Linked DNA regions of Homo sapiens: region 1 is linked to region 2. Evidence: fine-mapped expression QTL. Tissue or cell type: sigmoid colon. Region 2 holds a variant in brackets; the other region holds the start of a gene. All regions are shown on one strand. Distances are from middle to middle.

Region 1 (8,174 bases), 38 kb after region 2:
CAAAGTCTACTCGGCTAGCCACAGATGGAGATGAGACTGGACCTCAGACAGCCTGGCCAAGGGCCTGTCCCCACTGCACTTCTTCCATGTCCCCTGGCTAGTCTTCAGTAGGGTCCCCAAAGGTCTTTTTGCCTGGGGGCCTGGGGAGGGGGTGCATGACTTCTCTTCTTCTCCTGAGTGCCAGGTTTCCCCAGACCCCACATCCTTCCCCACTGCCCTGCATTCCAGGACCAGGAGGGCTGGGGCAGGGCCAGAAGATGGAGAGGAGCCCTCAGCATTGTGAGATGCTCAGGGGTGAAGGGTGTCCCTGAAAGTCCCTGCAAGCTCTTGATGTGCTTGACCTCATAGCCTGGCCTCCCTCTGCCTTTGGGCTTCTGTCTAAAAGACCCTCACATTCCTGAGAGCCACAGGAAAGCACCTTCCTCAGTAGAATGTCCAACTGCTCTAGTGAGGGGCCTCCTGCAGGGGTGGACAATTGCTGAGGTCGATGTAGGGGAACAGGGGGAGGCCCCCAGCCTGCCCCAACTCACCACTCAGTCAGGGAGGCCCTGACTTCTGCCTGTGTGCCTCCCTCTGCTGTCCGCCAGTGCGCCTCCGTGCCTTTGTCTCTTGTCTCACTGCCTCTTTCTCTGCCTCAGTCAGGCTCTCTCTCGGATTCCTCCTCCTCCTGAGCCCGTTCCTCTCCTCCTCTCCATTCTCATCAGAGAGGAACACTCATCCCTCTCTTCCAGAAACAATGGAGCACCATGCTCCTGTCCGCTCAGCCTTTCGGTTGGTGCATCCTCTTCCCCATCTCACACTCCCAGCTCCTGGCCGGCCTCATCACCCTGTGCTCCACACCTAGGAAAAGTATATCTGACTTGGTCCCCTTATCCCCGAGAAACCACTAAGAGAACCTTCAGGTCTCCCCAGAAGCCGAAGCTGAGGAACTGGGCTTGCCCCAGGGCATCCTCCTGTGAAGCTCCTTGGTCTCCGCCACGGGCTCCAATCCTGTTGCTGGAGCTTATCTCCTCAGTGATTTACCTGCCCCCTGCTTCTGGTGGAACAGTGAGTAACTGCCCAACCAGAAACCTACACACACATATTCAACACAGCGCCTGCAAGCTTCCAGCTCACCTGGACCTGGAGTGATCCCCAAGCATCCTGGGGTCAGGCACAGAAACAGGAACAGCGAGCTCCTGGCTCCAGTGCTGAATGGGGCACAGATGCATTAACTCTCCCAGTCCCATTAACCTTAGCAAGTATTTCTGCTTCCATGAAAAGGGGAAGAGGGAAAATGTCTCTAAGCTCTGGAACCTTTGGCAGTGCTGGGCATGGACTGGGCAGAGTGAGAAGTCTGTCTGAAGACCCTGGGAAAGGGTCTTCACCCCATGGGAAGAAAGGGAAGGCTTGATGTTTGGTCCAGTAAGGCCATTAATGGTCACCAACTGAGCAGACTCTGGGAGGAAATGTCTCAGTCTCTGCAGTGGCTACCAGCAGAGGTAGGGCGACATAAGCACAGAAGACAAATCTTAGAAAACCCTAGAACAACAGTCCTGTGCAGCCACATGCCCCACAGCCCTAGTAACTTAGGGAGTGATGTGCCTCCCATTTCCACACAAACACATCCAGGCATTGCACAGTGCTAGGCCCTACGACATCCGTACCCCAACATTTTCAACAGTGCGTGCTACACAGCCCAAGCTCTAGGCCCCATTGGGCACCCCACCTATGCAGGTGCCCATGCACTGGGCTAGCAACTGTCAGTAAAGGTCCCCTTCCTGTATGTCCAGAGTCCTTCAGCTCCAGCTTCTACAAGAATCCATGCAGCTAGGCCTGGCTGGGGGAGGAAGGGGACAGGGAAGTTGGCCAAGGCTCCCATGTGTGTGCATGTGGGGGTGGTTCTTGACCTTAGCTGCTTGGTACGGGGCTGTCACCTCCTTACCCTGGCACTGTCGGACCTGGTGGCTTCCTTCTCTATTTCCTGCCTCAACTCTCAGCCTCCTTTTTCTGGAAGTTGTGTGCTCTGACTTTGGAGGGATTGGGACCTCAGACCTGAGCCCAGGTGCAGATGGGAGGGTGGTGAACTGGTCGCGCCTCCTTCCTCCTTGCTACACCGAAGGTCCCAAGGGCCCTTTGCCACCCTTGCTACCCCTGGGTCCCTCAGCGCGCCCCGCAGAGCTCGGGCCCCCTCAAGAGAGTTAACTTGGCAGTGCCCAGGAGCCAGAGAGCGATCCAGAGAGCGCTGTTGGGCAGCAGGGGTGGGGAGGTGGGGGACGACTGACCCCTGACTCCTCATCCGGCCACCAGAAACCACCTGCTGAGGGGGCCGGGAACTGACGACTGAGAGCCCGGGCCGATTGTTAGAAGCTGCTGAGAACCAGCTCTTCCCCTAATCCCGGTCGACGAGGGCAGGCTGTGCCGGGTTTTGTTTCGCAGCCCCTCGGCAGCAGCGCCTCCCAGCCCGAGCTCGGTTCTCGGCCCCCTTTCCAGCTGCCCCCAGCGCGCGCAGCGCACACACACACACACACACACACACACACACACACCCCAGCGCGCGCCCGGGAGGACATGGCGTGGGCACCGATGGGGACGCAGAAAGGGGCTCTGTGCGCGGCGGGGCGCCCGCGGGGGCGCGGGGAGCACTGACCTGCGGCGACGAGTCCGGAGCGTCTCCGGTGCGGTCCATCGCGGGCAACGGCCCCTACGCCCCGGCCCCGGCGCCCCTAGACCGCTGCCCTGGGCCGCGTGCGGCTCCCTCCCCGGGGACTGTCGGGCTCCGGGCCCCCGGGGGCCACTTCATAGCCGCGGGGTCCGCGCGCCCGCCCGCCCCGCCCGGCCCCGCCGCCCCGGCCCGGCTCGTTCTGGGCTCAGCGAGGCGGCGGCCGAAGGCTGGGAGCGCGCGGGAGGGAGGGCGCGGGCAGGGAGGCGGGGGGCGGGGGGCGGGGAGGGGGAGCGGGGAGGGGGAGCGGGGAGCGGGCGCGGGGGCGAGAGGGGCGAGGGGGGCGCGCGGCCGGAGCCGAGCCGACCGGGCCGGCGCAGAGTCCCCGAGGTGGCGGCGGATGCGCCGGTGCCGCCGCGGCTCTGCCGGCGCCTCCCGCCCCGCCCCCACCCGCTCTCCGCCCCCGCCCCGCCCCCGCCCCGAGCCCGCGCCAGCGCCGGCGGGACCCGAGCTGCTAATGGTCGGTACCAACCTCGCCAGCCTAGGCGGGGGCGCGAGGAGGGAGGCCGGCGAGGGGACCCCCCCCCGGGATTGGTATCACCTCCCCACCGCCCCCCACCCTCCCCCGGCACCGTCCCCCGCGGAGGCGGCTCCCGCTTCAGGCGGCGGAGCAGGGGTGGCGGGCAGGGGCCGAGCGCACCCCCAGATCTCGGCTCTCGAGAGTTAAAGCTCGGCCCCCGCCTGCACCCCCATTCCACCCCGCCTCCATCCTGGCTGCTCCTGGCGCCCAGCTTGGCAGCCTCTCTCAAAGGGTGATTGTTTCCGGCCGGGCTGCTGCAGGAGGGCGGGGGGCGGCGCTCTGGGACCGAGAGGCCGAGCTGGGAAGCCGGTGGGGGATGCGGCTCCTTCCTTGGCTCCAGGCACCCCGGATGGGAGGTGGCCGGTGGGGGCGGACGGTGCCGTGCCGGGGTACGGGGTCTGCTGCCCCGTGGAAGGGCACCTCGAGCCGCCGCGCGTCAGCCTCACCCCAGCCTCCCCTTCCGGGCCGGTGCACCCGGCGTTCCGGAGAGAGGCCCGGGAGGCCTGCGTGGGCGGACGGGCGCGGGGAGGCCGGGGGCAGCGGGATCTCCAGGAGTTTCCCGGGCCTCTGCCGCGGTGTGTTGGTCGGCGGGGGACGGAGGCCAGTGAGTGGGCGCGCACTTGGACGTATGTGGGTGCACTGGTAGGGTGCCTCTGTGGAGCTGTATATTCCAGATACTCCTTCAGCTTGTCGGAGACTTTGAAGCCATCCTTGCACTCGTTTTAGAGGTTGGCATCTCCCGGTGCTCTTGGACACCTGTATTCGGGCCACACCCGCTGTGTCCTCTTCACAGCCCCAGGAGAAGGCCACCTCCCATGGCGGGGTTCGCGGCGGGACCAGGGACTGTCGGTACTTTCTCTAGGGTCTCCCTCCTTCCCGGGAAACCAGTTCCAGCCCCACTGCTAGGCACTGCTTAACCAGAGCTGTGCCCCCGTGCTATGGGCTGGGGCTGAGGACCACGGGCCTCTTTTCCATCAGCTTTCCTGCCCTGTTAGGACCAAGCCGGGCCCTGCTCTTCCCACTGAGGATGTGCAGGTGGGGAGGGGGCAGAGACTCCAGAATCAGCCCCTTTGGTCAAGATTTTGAGGGGAGGAAGGCACCTCACCGTCCGTATCATGCCACAGACATGTGAAAGTGTCCTTAGTGACTATCTCTAGGGATAACTGCTCCTCCTTGTCGTGCGCTCTTTCATTGTTGTGCTTAACAGCCCCCTTTGCCGGCAAGAAACTTCCTCTGAATCTAACCTCAGTACCTCCTGCTGCGGTACAGGAGCATTTCCCCCTTCTCTTAATGAGTGGAATCCCAGCCAGCCTTGCTCCGCCTTCTTCTGCCCCTACTACAACCCTCTCTTTTAGACTCTGCTAAGAGACCTTTCCTAAGTCGGTGTTCTCTGGTATTTTCCTAGTCTCCATACTCTGCTTCTCCTTAGACTCCACACCAGCTGAAGGGAGGGGAAGGGCAGGTGCAGAAGCAGGATGGGCGGGGGTACCAGAGAGCACCAAGGAGGGGCCAGGCCGTCCAGGAGGGCACATTGCCTCCCTCCTCTGCTAAGCCAGCCAGCCGCAGTCACACAATCACCAAATGGGAGGACAGAAATGACCGTGAAGACTGTCTCGTTCCAGACCCTCATTTTACCAACAGGGAAACACACCCATGAGGGGTGATCTCAAGAGAGCTCAGGGACATGGCGACGAGGAGGCCTGGGTTTCAGGCCGATTCTGAAGGCACTAGCAAAAGACTTCCCCTCAGGGCTGGTTTCAGTAATGAAACAGAGGGTTGGACTAAGTGGGCTGTGGTCCGACTTGTCCTGCTGGGCTGTGGCTCGGAGATGCTGTCTGCAGGGGTTCTCGGCTTTACCTCAGCATTCTGGCAGGAACAATTGTGATAATAAAGCCGCTTTCAAGGGACCTGTCTTGCATCTTAGTTCCAGGCTCTGTTTACAGAATTTTTAGTATTAATTTTTAGAGCCAATTTAAAACAATAATAGGAGATTAAAATTAGCATGATAAGGCTCAGTGAAGAGACAACAGCCTGCCATTCGTTTTGGTGGGAAGTTTTGGCAACATCCCAAGTGTATGGACACACACAAATGTACTGACATCTACGCAGGCACAAAACATGCTCATAGAGGCAGCTACACATGCAGATTCACCCACATGAACACACACACACACTCTGAAATACATCATGTGCACATGTAAACGCTTGCACACGGATGTACCTGAAGCACCTGCACCCACACAGACACACGTGTACACACACCATCCCCCGGGTCAGCCACACTCCCACCCCTGTCTTCCTGCTTGGCCTCTGCAGGACTGTGGAAATCCTTCCCTCCCATGTCTGGACTTGGTGCATCCTCACAGCTTGACCCTTGCTCCAAACATCTGGAGCACCTCTAAGGTCTCCCTGAATGATTGATCTTCCCCTCCCCCTGCCTTCCCTGCCAGTAGTGAGCCCCTCTTCTCAGAGGCCCCCAAAGCCTAGCACCAGCATGTTTAGTATGCAAAGCCCGGGTTTGTCCTCTGGGACAAACCGTTATGTGTTTATTGTGTAGTTAAGCAGGACGGGAGCCCTGCCCCCGCTCTGATCCTGGCCCACTTCCCATAATCTGAATCCCAGAAGAGTCCTGTAAAACCGTCATCTGCAATGCAAAACCTGCAAAACATCTGGGATGGTCTGTAGGTTTTCTCCAAATCACCTGTGCCCTAATTTAATATGAATAACAATTAGTTTACTCTTATCAGTTAATTGTTCCCCTCGTGGGTTCTGTCTGCCCTGGCCTCTCTTTCAGCAGGAGTTTTGGTCTGCTCCAGACTCCTAATGATACTGCCTTTTCAGCCGTGCCGTCCTTCTTAGCTACCACCCAAGAGAGGCAACGCAGCTGCGCTGCTTGCCGCCCTGGCCTGTGGGGCCCAGGCCCTCACCCCACCCGTCTTAGCCAGTCTGATTGTTGGGGGCCATCCAATCTCCCCTTGCCTTCACCAGGAATCTATAGCAGTGATTTTGCTGATGTGAGTGGAAAGGTCCCAGTGGGATTCTTCAGTGAGGAATCCCACCCCACAAGGTGCCCGTCCTCTCCCGTCATTGCCCTGGCAAGGGTGACAGCACATGCACATGCATGGGCACACCCAGATGCTGCCAGAGAGCAGGGGGAGTGAGAGGAGGAAGAGCTGCCCTCTGCCTCGGCAGGCAGGGTGAGCTCCCCAGGGACCCAGCCATGCTATCAGGCGTGTCTGAACTGTTCCCACAGTGGCTCCTGGACGGATGTGTGTGGATGTGCTGTTTTGGGTGGTGGAGTTCATGGCCCAGATACAGAAAGAGGAGGAGACCTTTTAACTCTTCCCTTTCATTAGGTTTCTGGTCTGAGCTTTGGATCTTGAACACCCTTGTTTGTCCATAAAAAATTGAAAATGGTCATGTGGTCAACAGGTTTCCCTCTGCCCTCCTCTCTTCTCAGAAGCCAGGCCGGCATCTTTCCTGAGCTGGTGCAAAAAGGCTGACTCCTGCTTCTCTCCAGTCTCTGCCTCCAGGGAAAGGGTGCAGTTACATGGCTTTAGAACACTTCAGTCATGTCATTTTGTTTTGCCTTCTTTCCTCTGTGGCTGAGGGAGGGATGAGAGGTGATAGGAGCAGAGCCCTCAGACTTAGGGGAGCATCTCTGAGGCTAACCTGGGACCGTTCTTTGTCCTCTTGCAGAAGTGAAAATAACCCAGATTGCCTTTTGACCTCCCCACTATCCCCTAACTACTCTGCAGAGCCCACACCTCCAAAGTCTCACTGAAGCCTTTCCCAACCTGAGCTCTGTGGCTTGTGCTGTCTCCTATAGCCCTCCCGACCCTCAGGCACCTCTGGCAGTGAACTGCTCTTCCCCTCAGTCCCATAGCACTTTATCCGGACACATCTGGAGGCTCTTACCCATCTGTGCATGCTTTCCTGTGTTCAGCTAATATTTACTGAGCTCCAGTCATATGCCAGGCACTGTGCTGGGCACCAGAGACATGCAGTAAACAACAGCAATTAGGAGTGTTAACTTCAATTAGGCCATTTATATGTATGCACCAGGTTAGGTTCCAAGTCTTCATGCACGTTAGCTAATTTCATATGTAAGGTGTTATTTACAAGGTACTGTTTGTGACAAGTTTCGATTATAGTTTCCATTTATAGGTCAGGAATCTGGGGCGTAGTATTTAGGTAATTTAATTAAGGTCACATGCCTAGTAAGTGACATAGCCAGCATTTGAGGCAGGCAGCCTAGTTCCAGGACTCAGGCTCATCGTCAGAGCACAACTCAGGGATTATATGCTAGTGGTCCATAGATGGGCAAATGCACAGAACAAACAGAGGTGGAGGAGATACAGGAAGGGAAGAAATAGGGTCAAGAGCTGGAGAGAGTCCTGGGAGGGTAGGATCAGGGAGAGGCTCTTTGAAGAGGCCATGTTTGAGCCAAAACCCGGGGGAATATTGGCCCAGCAAGGAGGACAGCGATAGGCGACCTGAGGGGTTTGCGGGAGGCTTGGTGTGCTTGAGGAACACGTGCAGCAGGTGAGGCTGGAGAGTGGAGAGAGAGGAGAGAGCCATGGGGAGCGGAAAGGACACTCTCTGCTTGGAGTTTGAGGATTCATGTGCGTGAGTGACCTCCTGCACTAGCGTCTTCCAGAGAGTGGCTGTTCAATAAATATGATGGATGGAGTCGTCTAATTTCCTGCCCAAACTCCCCTCCGTGGCTTGGGTGATGGGCAGACATCCTAGACCTTTGGGTATTAGTAGAGCATCTGCAGAAAGGACTCCTTACCCTTTCCTTTTGGGATTTGGAAGAAAGAAAAAAGGTGCTAGGAGTCCTGCCACATGGATGTGCTGATTCCATTTATTCATTCATCAAAATTCTGAGCAGCTCCGATGGCCAGGAATTTTGATAGGTGTGGGAAAGACAGAAATGAAGGGCCAGCTCCT
Region 2 (8,174 bases):
ACCCCACTCCTCCTGAGCCTGCCCACCCCTCCATCTCTTCTGTACGCAGCCAATCAAGTCTGAAAAGCCCATCAACATGGAGAACCTGCCAGTCAATGGGGGAAATGGACAGTCCTTCGGGTACATTCTCTATGAGACCAGCATCACCTCGTCTGGCATCCTCAGTGGCCACGTGCATGATCGGGGGCAGGTAGGAGCTTCTCTTCTAAATTCCTGTGACCTTCTGGTGAGCAGCTCTGCAATAGGCGTCTCATGCCCTCCCCTCAGAATCAGCTCTTACCAGTGTGTGACAATGGCCCTTCTGAGTCAGCTCTGTGAGCCTTCAGGGGGCATTCATGTCTGCTCTGCCCACTGGCCCCTCGTCTGCCTACAGGCACGCGTGCTGCCCTTCTTGGCCTGGAGGAGGTCCCGCTTACCCTCCTCCTGTTGGTCATGGATGTTCCTGCCTGTTCCCTTTGGCAGGTGTTTGTGAACACAGTATCCATAGGATTCTTGGACTACAAGACAACGAAGATTGCTGTCCCCCTGATCCAGGTTCGTTGTTTTTGGGAGCTGGGTGATGGCTAGCCCCCGCTGCTTCGAGGAAGTCTGGGGGCAGTCACTGAGGAAAACCTGGGAGACCCGTGGCTCCTTACCCACAAGCTGTAGGTGGAGAGGGCGAGTGTGGCTTTCTGCCCAGCTGGGATGTACACTCCCATCCCCAGAGCGTAGGGAAGAACTGGGGTCCACAAGCAAATTCTGAGGGGCAGCTGTGGCCTTCTGACAGTCATCGTTAGCCCCGTGTTCCCGGCAGGGTTACACCGTGCTGAGGATCTTGGTGGAGAATCGTGGGCGAGTCAACTATGGGGAGAATATTGATGACCAGCGCAAAGGTGGGTCCCAGAATGTGTCAAAAGAAGAGTGGCCATGCTGGACACACAGGTGGCTATTGCTTCTCTATGCTAGCAGGCCACCAGGCCATGGAGGCCTCTTGCAGGGAGGTGGAGGCTGGGTTGTCCCATACATGAGGCCAGTTCTGAGTGGGCCAGAGAAACTCCGCTGGGCTGTGGCCCCTGTCCTGTTAGCACTGCACGCGTGCATCGTCTGCGTGCTCGTGATAAACACTGTGAACACTGAGCTGGCCTCTTGTCTCCCCTGGGCTGCAGTCGGTTTCTGCAAGGATGTCTGCTTGGGGGGGCGGCAGTGAGGAGCAATGAATGTGATTTCCAGGAATCCAAGGAAAGGCACAAGACCCCTGCCTTCTTGGGCCTCCACACTGAAGTTCTCTTCTTGATCCATCTTGGGAAAGCTTATCTCAGATGTTGGGGGAGGAGGATGCGGGACATACAGCAAACAAAACACCTGTTGGTAGCGTACCCCTCTGGGAATAGGCCGCCAATTTGCTTTATGTTTCCTGGCCTACTAAATCTTTTATGCTTTAATTTAGCCCTTCCTTTTTTTTTTTGAGACGGAGTCTCGCTCTTTCACCCAGGCCAGACTGCAGTGGTGCAATCTCGGCTCACTGCATGCTCCACCTCCCGGGTTCATGCCATTCTCCTGCCTCAGCCTCCCGAGTAGCTGGGACTACAGGCGCCCGCCACCGTGCCCAAATTTAGCCCTTCCTTTTTAAAAAAAATCTAGCTAAATGTGGGTGGTTTCAGGTAAGTTATAAAAAAAGAACTCAGAACAAAATGAATGCGACTGTGGTGAGCAGCACCGGTGACCTCCCAGCTCTCTCACGGTGTCTGCGTTTGTGACGGAGGAAACTTGAAGAGCTCTTATTGGTCCACATTTCCTCCGAGAGCCGTCTGGTGGCCTGCCAGGAAAGCCACGTGGCCCAGACACTGGGGCCTGGATCCTGGGGATCAGGGCCCTTCTAGATGGGCCTCAGAGCGGCATCTAGCACCACCCAGGCCCACACTCCTTTACCCTAGACAGCTCCCTCTCTGGGCCTGTCCTCACTTCTGTTGTTCTCCTGGGAGTTGGAAGGAGCACCAGCCTGACCATTGTTCCTAACTTTGCTTCCCTGAGCCCTTGTTGAGGGTCCCCTGGGCCCACACTGTGGAGTCCTGTCCTCTGGATCACAGTTCAATGTTTATAAGTCACAGACCTCCCTTGAGAAATGCGCGTGCCCACATAGACCCGCACCTGCCATTTCGGAGTCTGTAGGCCCTGCAAAGCCTCTCCACAGTCCTCGGCCTCCAAATTCCCAAGCTAGCCACTCAGCAGCTCTGTAATCTGAGACTGGCAGGGCTGGCCCGGCCCCGGGACACTGATGAGTGGCTCCTCAAGAGGACACATCTCTTCCCTGTTGGATGCCCGAGGGAGGGTGCCATCTGCTCACAGTCCAAACACTCCTAATGCACAGCTTTAATCCTAGGTGGCAGAGATGATTCTGGCTGAGTTATTAGGTCTGTGTAGCTTGGGCCCCACTGAAACTGGCCCTGCAGCTAGGCCAGAACCCTCTCGGTCATCTGGAACTTCCTTCAGAGAGAGGCCAGAGGTTGTTCTCGCCCTGTAACACCTCAGCTCTATATCCTTCCCATGGCAAATCTTAGGGTCTTCCTCCTTCCCGTCCCCCACAGAATTGCTAGGGAGCTTTGCTTGCAAGCGAACGGCTTCCCAGGGAGCGTACACTTCAGTACCCCTCACCCCAGCTTCTCAGGGAGCGTACACTTCAGCACCCCTCACCCCAGCTTCCCAGGGCTTCCCCTCGTGGCCCCGGCCCAGCTGACTCGGCCCCTGCCTTTGGGCTACCCACGTGTCCTGCCTCCCTCCCACAGGCTTAATTGGAAATCTCTATCTGAATGATTCACCCCTGAAAAACTTCAGAATCTATAGCCTGGATATGAAGAAGAGCTTCTTTCAGAGGTGGGTCCCTGCCCAGCACCAGCCCTTGCACTCACAGGTATAGTGCTGTGTGGTGGGGCCCAGGGGTCCCTGGTGCACCGTGGCCTGGCCCGCACCCAGGTGTGAACGCCTCCAGGGGCCAGATCGGCTGGCCGAGGTGAGGGGTGGCACCCGCACTAGAAGCCGCATTTGCAGACTAGGAATTCCCAGCATCCTACCGTGCTGCCATTCTGTGTCCTGGTTAAGAGGCGGGGGGCCTTGGATGGGGAAACGGTGTCAGGGCCTTTTATTTTGCTTTATTGTGCTGGTGGATTGAGAAGGGCCTCCTCCCTCTCCTTCTCTGTGTTCTGTCCTTAGGTTCGGCCTGGACAAATGGAGTTCCCTCCCAGAAACACCCACATTACCTGCTTTCTTCTTGGGTAGCTTGTCCATCAGCTCCACCCCTTGTGACACCTTTCTGAAGCTGGAGGTTGGTAACGCCCTTTTCCCTGCCAGTTTCTCCCACCTGCCTCCCGCCTTGGAGGGCTCTGAGCCAAAGCCACGAGCTTGGCGAGAGTCGTTGGTGGCTTCTGTGCCCAGAGGGTCTGAGAGGGCCGCTGGGGCCTCCCTGGGCCAGAGGAGTGGGTTCCCAGCAGAAGAA[A/C]CACCTCATGCACTAGGGGGACAGGAAATAGAGCATCCCACCTGCCCACCCTCATGGCTGTCCAGACACAGCTCGCTTTGGTCTCCTGGACCTGAGAGAAGCACGCATGCATGTCTCCCTCCACTTTTGCTGTGGCTCTCGTGGTAGATGAACACCCTTCCCCTCTGTTTCAAGGGCTGGGAGAAGGGGGTTGTATTCATCAATGGCCAGAACCTTGGACGTTACTGGAACATTGGACCCCAGAAGACGCTTTACCTCCCAGGTCCCTGGTTGAGCAGCGGAATCAACCAGGTGGGAGCTTCCAGCCCCTTCCTGTTCCCCATGACGCCCTGCCCACCTGCCGTCCCAGGGAGCCTTCGGTCAGGGTGGAGGGGCGTGTCAGCGGGTTCTTCCTCCCTCCTCCTCGCTGCAGACGAGTTGTTGGTCCCTGTCCCTTCCAGCCTGGTTCCCAAACCCTTTCCTTCTGACCCTGCCACCTCTCAGCACCTCCCCTGGCTCCAGGACAGACGTCAGCTGCCCTCCCAGCCGGGCCCTCTCTCCACAGGTCATCGTTTTTGAGGAGACGATGGCGGGCCCTGCATTACAGTTCACGGAAACCCCCCACCTGGGCAGGAACCAGTACATTAAGTGAGCGGTGGCACCCCCTCCTGCTGGTGCCAGTGGGAGACTGCCGCCTCCTCTTGACCTGAAGCCTGGTGGCTGCTGCCCCACCCCTCACTGCAAAAGCATCTCCTTAAGTAGCAACCTCAGGGACTGGGGGCTACAGTCTGCCCCTGTCTCAGCTCAAAACCCTAAGCCTGCAGGGAAAGGTGGGATGGCTCTGGGCCTGGCTTTGTTGATGATGGCTTTCCTACAGCCCTGCTCTTGTGCCGAGGCTGTCGGGCTGTCTCTAGGGTGGGAGCAGCTAATCAGATCGCCCAGCCTTTGGCCCTCAGAAAAAGTGCTGAAACGTGCCCTTGCACTGGACGTCACAGCCCTGCGAGCATCTGCTGGACTCAGGCGTGCTCTTTGCTGGTTCCTGGGAGGCTTGGCCACATCCCTCATGGCCCCATTTTATCCCCGAAATCCTGGGTGTGTCACCAGTGTAGAGGGTGGGGAAGGGGTGTCTCACCTGAGCTGACTTTGTTCTTCCTTCACAACCTTCTGAGCCTTCTTTGGGATTCTGGAAGGAACTCGGCGTGAGAAACATGTGACTTCCCCTTTCCCTTCCCACTCGCTGCTTCCCACAGGGTGACAGGCTGGGCTGGAGAAACAGAAATCCTCACCCTGCGTCTTCCCAAGTTAGCAGGTGTCTCTGGTGTTCAGTGAGGAGGACATGTGAGTCCTGGCAGAAGCCATGGCCCATGTCTGCACATCCAGGGAGGAGGACAGAAGGCCCAGCTCACATGTGAGTCCTGGCAGAAGCCATGGCCCATGTCTGCACATCCAGGGAGGAGGACAGAAGGCCCAGCTCACATGTGAGTCCTGGCAGAAGCCATGGCCCATGTCTGCACATCCAGGGAGGAGGACAGAAGGCCCAGCTCACATGTGAGTCCTGGCAGAAGCCATGGCCCATGTCTGCACATCCAGGGAGGAGGACAGAAGGCCCAGCTCACATGTGAGTCCTGGCAGAAGCCATGGCCCATGTCTGCACATCCAGGGAGGAGGACAGAAGGCCCAGCTCACATGTGAGTCCTGGCAGAAGCCATGGCCCATGTCTGCACATCCAGGGAGGAGGACAGAAGGCCCAGCTCAGTGGCCCCCGCCCCCCACCCCCCACGCCCGAACAGCAGGGGCAGAGCAGCCCTCCTTCGAAGTGTGTCCAAGTCCGCATTTGAGCCTTGTTCTGGGGCCCAGCCCAACACCTGGCTTGGGCTCACTGTCCTGAGTTGCAGTAAAGCTATAACCTTGAATCACACCCCCTCTGGTGATAGTCTCTGGTCATGTGTGCCACTCTTGCCAGAAGGGAAGGCTGTCTGAGAGCTTGGTTTTCTTGGTCAGGTTCCCATTGGGCCCCACTTGCCGCCTGGGGGTCCAGATGGGGACCGTCCCTGGGGTGGGTGGGCCATGATCCTGGCCTCATATTCCCCTCCTGACCCCGACTTCCCTTCAAATGTCTCTGGATTGGAAGTGCCCTGGAGAGGACAGTTCAAATGCAAATTCATTCTCATGCTGGTGGGCGGGGGTAAGAATCTGCCAGGCAGTCAAGGGCGCTCCATATGAGTTAACTGCGGGGTTGAGTTTTGCTTCACAAACTACATCTGGCATCTACTGCCAAAACCAAATTATCTCCAGTAAGAGTCAGAAAGTCAAGTAGCACACACATCCCCGGCACAGCGAGAGCTCTGGGAGCCCCGTGAAGGTGGGCTGGGGGATGGTGAGCCGTGGAGCTCACTGAGGCCAGCAGGCTTGCTGCCCGTGTGTGGCTGCCCAGGGGGAGTGCAGGGGACATTCGTGGTGTGCAGCCCAGCAGCTGAGCCGGGTCAAGGGCTTATTAAATGGAGCTTATTAAAGGAAAGCTTGTGGACAGTGGCTTGGGAACAACATGGGGCAGAGTCCCTGGTTTTGCCCAAACTCACCAGTTCTTCTGGAACTGCCTCGGAACGACAAGCATGGGGCTAAGATGTGGATGAGACTCGGGCTACTTGGGTGTGGCCTGAGCCACCTGCAGGGTCTTCTGCCCCGCTTTACCTGAGTGTGTGCTTCTGCAGAGCTGTGTATGAGCTGGTTCCGTCAGAAAGTGATGGAATGGAAGGGAACCTTCCTGCAAATCCTCCTGTAAGGTGGAGAAGCCCCTTGGATCACACTTCCACGCAGACCTGAGCAGGACACACTGTGGTTTCCTAAGGTGAGGTCTTCCTACACCAGCTTCTTATTCTCACCCTTATTTTCTGCCAGTTAATTGCTCAGCTTCTCTATCAAAGTACCTCTTGGCAGAGCTTATTCTCCAGCGTTGACTAAAGATGTTTCCATTATCTTCCACACGGTATGGCCTCATCTAGGTCTCTTTGGAGAATCCCTCTTCATATCCAGCCTCTGAATGCTGGGGGTCTCTGGCCCACTCCTTGGGCTGTTTCTTTCCTCTGTCCACACTCACTGCATAGGGTCTCACCCGTGCACCTGTGGTTTGTAAACAGGTTGGACACCCGCGCCCGCCGATGCTGGGCTGCACCTGAGCTCCAGGTGTGTGGGGGCGCATTTTCTTCTGCATGTGTCTAACAGGCACCTGACACAGAGCTCCATTTCCCCACATTACCCCTCCTGCACGCAGCCCTGTATCTGGAAATGGCAGTGCTGTTCTGTGTCTCGGGCTATTTTGGACCCCTCTCTTTATCTCCCACATCCAATCCAGCAGCAGATCCTCCTGGCTCTGCCTCCTAAACTTGGCCAAAATTTGACTGCTTCTCTCTGCCCCAACCCCATGCCCCCACTCAGCCCACTGCATCTTGGCCTGGATGATTCCAGGAGCCACGTCTCCACCTGCCCTTGCCCTCTCCATTTATCCTCCGTGGAGGAGCAGGGCAGTTCTTCTTAGAGATGGATAGATTATGTTAGTCCTCCGTACTGGACCCCCTATTGCCTTCTGGTTTCACCCGGTGCCTGGGGACTCCCTTCTCCCACGCCCACCACATCCCTCACTGCTGTTGCCCCCAGCAGCCCCCGCCCCGTCAGTTGAGCCCGATGGCCTTCCTGCTGATCTGTAAGCAGGCTGAGCAACGCTTGTTCCGCCTGGTGGAGAGTTCGTTCTTCTTGGGCCCGGGGAGCTGCATGTCAGGGTGTTGCTGCTTCGCTCAAGGGTCACTTATCACGGAGGCCTCTGTGGTCACCCTACAGAGCACTGACCCTCTCCACTGCTACCTCTGTCTCCCCGACTCACCCTCATCCTCCATACAACAGATTGCATCTGAAATAATATGCATTCGTTATTGCCTGTCTCCTCTCGTCAGTGGGTCAGTTCTTTGAAAATGAGAGCCTTGTTTTCTCACTGCTGTGTGTCGGCTCCTAGAATGATGCCTGTTCATAACAGGCACCTGATACATACTTGTTGGGTAGCTAAATTAATAAATGAGAACAAAATAAGGCAGGGCTGAAGAGGATTAGGACTGTTAAAAACTGTATTTGACTTTTAATTTTGAAAGCAAATTAAATACAGTTAAATTAAAACAGACCAGATGCAGCTGCCTGGGTGCCACCCTCACCCCAGCCTCTGTTCTTAGAACTCCTAGCCCCTGGCCTCACTCCTGTGTGGTGGGGCTTGCCAGCGAGGGAGCAGGGAACAGACTGGGTTTGGAAAACAGTGGTCATCATGGACCCATTTCTGATTTATAACAAACTCATTCCCAATAAAGATGAAGGCTGCAGTCCACCAGGGTTATAATTATAAATAAATATACATGCAGCTAAAAGAGGATATTAGGTGAAAACAACTGACCTAGCATCTGCCCAAAGAAGTCCCCATTTTGTTGTTCATTATCAAAGTCCTGAAAATGAACCCTAGGTTTTTGGCTAAGAAGGTGGCCTCAGACCAGCCAAGCTGACCTTGGCACTTGGCTGGCTTCTGTGAGGCAGTAGAGTGCCCACACATAAGCTCACCACCTGTGCCCACCTCCTCCCTTCTCTCCCATGCCACCCCACTTGCTTCCAAGGGCTTGGTTTCCAAAGTGACATCCAGGGTGTAAGAGGTTGGGGAAAACGTCCTGCAAGGTGGCTCAGGGATCTGATTCCA

Evidence for each region. PIP is the estimated chance that this variant, and not a neighbour inherited with it, causes the effect.
Region 1: it holds the start of B3GAT1, and the variant in region 2 is fine-mapped to the expression of B3GAT1 in sigmoid colon (GTEx, PIP above 0.99).

The regions. Positions count from the first base shown.
Region 1 is chr11:134,409,178-134,417,351 of GRCh38, forward strand. It overlaps B3GAT1 (beta-1,3-glucuronyltransferase 1), which reads right to left and starts at 3,065. Exons shown (of 6, transcript NM_054025.3): 1 at 2,630-3,065. RefSeq lists an enhancer at 1,654-2,213.
Region 2 is chr11:134,370,959-134,379,132 of GRCh38, forward strand. GLB1L2 (galactosidase beta 1 like 2) reads left to right here. Exons shown (of 19, transcript NM_001370461.1): 13 at 50-190; 14 at 463-534; 15 at 794-872; 16 at 2,763-2,850; 17 at 3,187-3,298; 18 at 3,644-3,760; 19 at 4,014-5,366. The coding sequence ends at 4,100. B3GAT1 (beta-1,3-glucuronyltransferase 1) reads right to left here. Exons shown (of 6, transcript NM_054025.3): 6 at 7,550-8,174. It overlaps LOC124902798 (a long non-coding RNA gene), which reads left to right and starts at 5,838. Exons shown (of 2, transcript XR_007062961.1): 1 at 5,838-6,296; 2 at 7,106-7,383. RefSeq lists an enhancer at 5,503-6,402. The variant A/C (reference allele first, on the strand shown) is at 3,470.